Homo sapiens: one gene and its partner. The protein of the gene in region 2 purifies or fractionates together with the protein of the main gene of each other region. This does not show direct contact. Each region holds a gene or a part of one and is shown on either strand. Other genes may lie near its edges.

What was found. The genes of interacting proteins can lie anywhere in the genome.
Region 1: the proteins of ENPEP (region 2) and ITGA4 fractionate together in Homo sapiens (co-fractionation; one large-scale study listed by BioGRID). This does not show direct contact.

Annotation. Positions count from the first base shown.
Region 1 is NC_000002.12:181,533,853-181,537,510, reverse strand, and holds part of ITGA4 (integrin alpha-4 isoform 1 preproprotein), read right to left. Parts: intron 3,240-3,658; coding exon 3,141-3,239; intron 2,696-3,140; coding exon 2,576-2,695; intron 2,080-2,575; coding exon 1,984-2,079; 3' UTR 1-1,983. UniProt on the Homo sapiens protein: Integrins alpha-4/beta-1 (VLA-4) and alpha-4/beta-7 are receptors for fibronectin. They recognize one or more domains within the alternatively spliced CS-1 and CS-5 regions of fibronectin. They are also receptors for VCAM1.
Region 2 is NC_000004.12:110,482,515-110,486,172, reverse strand, and holds part of ENPEP (glutamyl aminopeptidase), read right to left. Parts: intron 1-3,658. UniProt on the Homo sapiens protein: Regulates central hypertension through its calcium-modulated preference to cleave N-terminal acidic residues from peptides such as angiotensin II.

The DNA of each region.
Region 1 (3,658 bases), on a different chromosome or scaffold from region 2:
TATAGCCTACCTGCCAAAAAAGAATAACCCATCCCTGTCTTCTTAAAGTGGTAGGGTTTTAAAATTCATGATACAAGTAACAAAGTAAGTTGATAACAAATACTATTTTGAACTGGGCAAAATCTAGCCCAATATGTAATTGTGTTCCCCTTGTATCTGAGAGGCCTGTGTTGGACAACCATAGTACTCTGCTTTCACTGTGCTCAGATAACCTGAAATATATAGTTGTTTCTGAGTAGTTCTGAGTAGGAAAGAACCAAATGTAAATTTCCTTAGAGACCATCCTGGAGAAGACAGTTCTAAATCGGGGCTTGATTTTTCATCTATGATCCTAGATGTTCTCCTGAAAGAATGACTAGCCTTTTTATAACGATACAAAGTTTTTTAAAAATACATAAATGTCATAAAGTTTATTCCTGTGTATACACACTCTGGGTTCAGGAGGTTTTGTGCTTACATTTCACTACTCAAATGCCTTCGCAAATCTCAGAACATTCCTCACCATCACTGCAGGCCTGTGAACAGATAACTTTCATCAATTAGGATGGCTGGCTAGTGGCAGGGACTTCATATAAAGAAATCTTTCCCAGAATTGTTTTTCCACATTGCCTTCTAATTTGATCACTCCCTATAACAGATGTTCAAAATTCGGCCACAGCTCTCTTATGAAGGCAGAGTCAGATAAAATGATATTCTGCAATTATCTAGATCATAAGCATAAAATAAATATTACAAAAATGATTGTATTTAAAGAAATTTTTTAAAATCCAGAAAGTCATTTAAAATAGAACCTCATATAGTATGAACAAACTATAAAAATATTTTACATTTCATGAAAATTTTGCTGTCGTCTCATTTATATTCACTGTATACAAATTGAATCAGTATCTTTCAGCTAAATTTATGAATTTAAATTTATGAATTTTGTTTCTTCGTTTCCATGTAAGGTAACACTTATACTTGTAAAGGGTAACAAAGAATTACATCCAAGGAAATAGTTGTGTGATAGTCAATATTTTACATAGTACATAATACATATGAAGTATAGGCCCCCTAGTCTTTGCACAGCTTTGATTTTAAAGTTATTAGTGAGGTATGGTTTCTGTATTTTCTAAATCAGCGTGTATCAGGTAAAGTGCAACACTCACAATCTTTTGTTTCAGAATATAACAAAAGATTTGAAGATTACTCCTGGGTATGCTTGATAAAGGTGTGTTATAGGAAGAATAGATAGGAAGAATGGTAAATATATACCTACATAAAAACACATGTATATATACAGAAAGAAAGATGGTGAAATCCATAATTATAAAAAAATAATTATCCAGAAGTAATTTCACTAAGCTCAAACCAGTGTACATGTTCAGTCTGAAGTTTGCCAGTTTGGCCTATAATACTATAATATTCATAGTCTGCTGAAAAAAAATGGTTGTTGGAACACAGCCCGTAGGAAATGTATTATAAATAAAGGGCTTTAAAGTGATAATGGTCCACTCGTTAGAAAATTTGGGAACAGCTCTCTAAAAAATTATATTTTTAAAGAACATATTTTGAACAAGTATCAAAGATGTATTTGAAATGAACCTCTGCCCACCCAGTGGGGTTCATTTTACTGAGGCAAGCACATATGGTAAGTAGTATTTCAAGTCTAAGACTTCTCCAGTATAATTTAACTCAGTTATACTTTCATTTCAAGATATCTTCAAGGGCTTACTTTTCTTGAATAAATTGAATGCTTTAGTGTTTCTCTACCCATTTAAAAGCTGAGAGATTATCTTTGGCTGTATTATTACCTTTGCAGTTCTTCTATCTCAAAGAGTAATCATTGCTGAGATTTTCCCCTTGCATGAAGACATAATATGTCACAAGATCATGAGTAAAAGAAGTCCAAACAAAATTCATTTTTTCTTGTAAACAGTGTCTTTTAAATTTCTTTACTACAACCTGAGTCTGTTTTCCATTCTCTCAATTTGAAAGAAGTCCTTAATCATCATTGCTTTTACTGTTGATATAACTCCAACTGTCTCTTCTGTTTTCTTCTTGTAGGATAGATTTGTATTGTCTTTTAAAGAAGCCAGCCTGAAAATAGCATAACATAATCACTAGTGTATAGTTATGAACACTCTCTTATCTACTATACTCATTTCTAATATCTAAGCAGTTAACACCAATATTTCTTAAACTGCATCCCTTGTAACATCAGTCATAAAGGTTTAACAGAGGTAATCAGTAAAAATTAGTGGGGACATACTGGGTTAAAGAAACATTTTTGTTTTTAATGCAGAAATTCTCAGTGATACACACCACATTCTCTCCAAAATTGACATTCCGTGTAATTTGCAATCTTTTCCAAATGGTTTTTTAAAAGGAACGTCTGTCTTTCAAAACAAATTAAGAATGCATATTTTTCTAGAAAGACTTTGGTGTTGAAGAGAAATGTGAGATCAGTACTGAGCAACATAAAAAGTTAACATTCAAATAGTGAAATATTTAAATCTAATAACTTGGAAGTCAAATTGGCTTTGAGAAAATGTCATTTTTAGTAGACTAATGTTGGTAATTGTTAAATGCTTACCTTCCACATAACATATGAGATCAATAGAAGTACAATAAGTCCAAGTAGCAAGCTACTTGAAATAATCACTATGGTGAAATAACGTTTGGGTCTTTGATGATGTAGTCCTTCCAGTAGAACCTACGTGAGTTAAGAAAAATAAAACTCAAAAACCAAAAAAAAAAATCAGTTTAAAACGTTGCTTATATTTCCTTTAAAGCCCTGCCATAATCCCCAGTAGTATTTAGAACTGCCCAGCCCATTTTCTTGCTGGTTCTAATATAATTGCAGGAAACACTGGTAACTGTTTAGCAGAAACAGTGAGTGTAATGGGCTGTATCCATGACTTTTCCTCCAATCTATTCAATTCTCACTGCTGCCCAATTCACCTCTCTGAAAGAACTGCTGTATTGTTCCCTCCTGCCAGTTGTGGAAAATGCCAACTCTCAACCAAGTATTGGGGGCCCTCCATGAGCTGGTCACACTCTACTTTCCCAACTCAGTTACTCAGAAGGAAGTAATTATAGACACCCTTGAAATGTGTTTTCCTATAATTTTAATGTAGCAGTTAAGAGGGTAATCTTACATGCGCAACATTCTCATCCTTGTTTAGTTCAATTACTCTTGGATTTGGCTCTGGAAAACCTGTTGCTCTTATTTCAAACTTGAGTGCTGAAGTCTCATCCTGTTTAATAAAAGAAGGATCACCATAGCCTGGTTTATTTCATAAAGACATAATTTATCAGGATCTTTACCTTCTAGCTAGAGGTTTTCACAATTTACCTTCCCCAATTTATTTCACCACTTAAAATTAACTGCAGTGCCTCCTTTGGTTCCCAAAGTGTGGTCTTGGTATTAATTTATATAGTATCATTTTATTGAAATCCTTTGATTAAACAGCTACCTTGCAAATAACTTGATTTAAATATTAGACTACAGAAAGAGGTAAGTTACCATTTACCATTGTTCTCCACCCCACCACCGCATATTGAATCTATCTTATTTGGGCTTTTTATTTCTTTCTAAATTAAATACATTATAGAATTCAAATATAAAATCAGTGGATGAACTCAGAACTTTACTATCTAAAGCAAGGATTTTATA
Region 2 (3,658 bases):
AATGAATAAATAAATGGGTGAGAAGGGAAAGTTATTCCTTCCAGTAGATTGCCTACTAATAATATTTGAAGGAAAAAATTATTTTAAAAAATCATCAGTGGATGCCAAATCCAGGGGGTGAAAGTTTGGTGAGGAAGGGATATTTGCAAGGTTTCAAAAACTCCCTGAAAGTTACCTAAAGAGAAACCTTGTAACTTTACAATGGAGACGCTTGGTGGACACTACCTTAAGCAAGCTATCAAAGGAAGCATCAGTAATAATAGTTCAAACCAGCACAATGTGTCTCTAATGTGATTTCCTGAGAGAGACACATCACTTCTGTGATAGTCCTGACAGAAAAAAAAAAACAAAAAACTTAACTTGCATTTTTAAATCATGAGGAAAATCAGACAAACTACAACTGAGGGACATTCTCAAAATAGCCAGCCTGTATTCTTCAAAAATATTAACTTTAGAAAGACAAAGAAGGACTAAGGGACTGGTTTCAGTTTAAAGGAGTCTAAAAGGGCATGACACTAAGTGCAATGCAGCATTCCAGACTGGGTACTGCACTGGGGGAAAAAACATTCAAAAAGACATCATTAGGTTAGTTGATAAAATTCTATTACAGACTGTGAATTAGATAGTTGTATTAATGTTAAATTTCTTGATTTTGATGACTGTACTATGTTTATTTTAGAGAATGCCCCCGTGCTTAAGAAATATGCTCTGATGTTAAGGGGTAAAGGGAGAGGATGTTTCCATGTGCTCTGGAAAGGAAGGGGAAGGGGTACAGGCTAAAACGTAAACAATTGGTGAATCTAGGTTAAGTATTTCTAGGAATTCCTAGTACCGTTCTTATAACTTTCCTATGAGTCTGAAATTATGTCACAATAAAGTTACCCAAGAAAAGCCTCAGTTAAGAATTCATTCTGCAATAGAACAATCATTGATTAGTTTTGTGACATTAACAGTTTAGTCAATTGAAGTTTCTAAACATCTTGCAGATTGTAGTTAATTGCAAGTATATCAGACTCTAAAAAAGCCTGTACACTTTCCCAGAGTTTGAAAGTTTTATAAGATCCACCAAGCTCCAACCCCATGTTTAGTCAGCTGCCTTTTCCTTCTGAATTCTTCTGACTTCTGATGTCTTCCAGAGGCAGGGGAAAAGGAAAAGTCACTCCTTGCAAGAATGTCTCCTCTGAGTCACACCTCAGAAATAGGCCAGCTAACTAATTTGAGAAGATGAGTGTGTGTGAGTGTGCGTGCGTGCATGCGCGCACCACACACATCTTCGTGTGTGGGAGGTGAGAGGAAGGAGGAAGTGGAATTACACTTTCCTAAGCTATAGCCATGGGGTATGTTTTCAAATACTCTATTTTACTCTTGGCTGGATGCCAGAATATGAATATATATATATATAATATAATATATATATAAAATATAATATAATATATATAATATATATTCCTAAGATCCCAGGAAAGAAAATAATTTTCAATCCTTTTCTCACCTTCTCTCTTTAAAAGACATTCTGCTTGATTGTAGGCAAAAACTACCTTCCTAAACTAGCGTATTCCTGAGCTTGCCAACGGACATGGAACAGAACAGTGTGGGAGATTTCTCTGTGCGGTGTGTTTGGCCCAGCTCAGTGGTCCTCTCAGCAAATGTCAGTCACAGCAAGTCTAACTCAATCACAGTGACCCAGATATAGATACAGTGACATTCATCAACCCGAAGAGCTATATAATGTTTATTTTCTTTTTCTTTTTTAAAGTTCAGAGCCAATATGATTTTATGGGGAAAACCCTTTTCTAAGAGCAAACATTCTTACATTCTAATCCACTTCAGCTACTAAAGTGTGATCTTGACCAAGTCACAAAACCCCAGACTTTTAGTGTCCTCATCTGTAAAACCTGGTCACCAGAGCATGTATAGCCTCCTCACAGCGTTATGGGGAAGTGAGAAGGCGTAGATTACATGTAGTAATACATTTGAAACTCCCTTAAAATTTACATAATGTGGTTAGGATATACCTCATTCTACATCTTATAAATCTAGAATGCTAGTGCTTTCTGACATAGCACTTTCACAATCTGAAATATTTCAAATCCTTTCATTTGACTGCAATATATACTGGAACAAAATTACTTGGTGTATATACACTATAGGCAATGTAAGCATTTTTAAAATGGTAACCTGTTCTTTTTCTCATGAACTTCAGAATAACTCAAAAGCTCCTTTTTATATATCCTAAATTCCATCAGTTGGCCCTAAACTTTTCTAAGTGTGTGCAAAGTTGAAAACAAGGAATAAGAGATAACAATACAAAACAATTCTAGATCACAACTTCTTTGGGAAGATTTTATTCAGTGATTAAAATCAGATGACTTGTCTTGCAAATTAAGAGAAAAAGGCTGACTAATAGCACAATATGTTCAGGAGTGACTTGTGGGTACGTCCTGAATAATTATCGCGCCAGGCAAATGTGTTGGAGTAAACCACCTTCCCACAAGGGCCTCCCTATGCCACATTAATAAGTCACTTACTAGACCTAGCACAATAAAATGATAGTCTATGCAATTTAGTCGTTTCCAAAAGGGAAGAGCATTTCTCTGGCATCTCTGAGTGGATCAGATCAAGGTGACTTTAAGAAAACTGAGGGAGAAGGGGCGATGGCACAAGTTATGGCTTGGATCACTCTGAATTGACTCTAAAAAAAAAACCAAAAAAGGTACCTAATTATCTCATAAATCATCTGGCATGCTGTTTCCAGTGAAGACTCTCTGGCTGTGCTGAGCAATTTTATAAGTTGAACCAGCAAAATAAACAGCAAGTTTTGGGTGAAATCCTTAAACACAGAGCTTCTGATTCGGGACAGGTAGTCACAATTGCTAGGGGTCTATATAGACTAAATAAAGGGTTCCAGAATTACATAGAGGAGCAGCTTGGTGAAAAACAACCCCTCTAGATTGTTCAGACCTCTATGTATTTTTATGGTGGTTTGAATGAACCAGTTAGTTATTTAACTTTATTTTCCAATTTTTTTTTTCTATGTAGAAGATATTCAAGGTCAAGTAAAATTTCTTTTTGTTTTCTTGCTTCCAAAATAAAAGAAATTTACTTAGCCTCCTGCAACAAGTAAACAAGACCAAAAAGAAAATGTATTCTTTTTTTGTTTGTTTGAGATGGAGTCTCACTCTGTCACCCAGGCTAGAGTGCAGTGGCGCGATCTTGACTCACTACAACCTCCGCCTCCTGGGTTCAAGCAATTCTCCTGCCTCAGCCTCCAGAGTAGCTGGGATTACAGGCATGTGCCACTACCCCCGGCTAATTTTTGTATTTTTAGTAGAGGCGGGGTTTCACCATGTTAGCCAGGCTGCTCTCGAACTCCTGACCTCAGGTGATCCGCCCACCTCAGCCTTCCAAAATGCTGGGATTACAGGCATGAGCCACCTCGCCCAACCTAAAATCTATTCTTTATTGACATTTTTATTGACAATGGGATAATAGCTCAGCATACTAATCTAAGAATATAATGAACAAACTGACATACGACAAAAATTTCAAGATCAAAACTACATGTGCTTGAGTATACATACACATCCATGCAGGTAAGAATACATTACACACACACACTTAATGATGATTATCTCACCGATGTTTCCACTCAACTCCT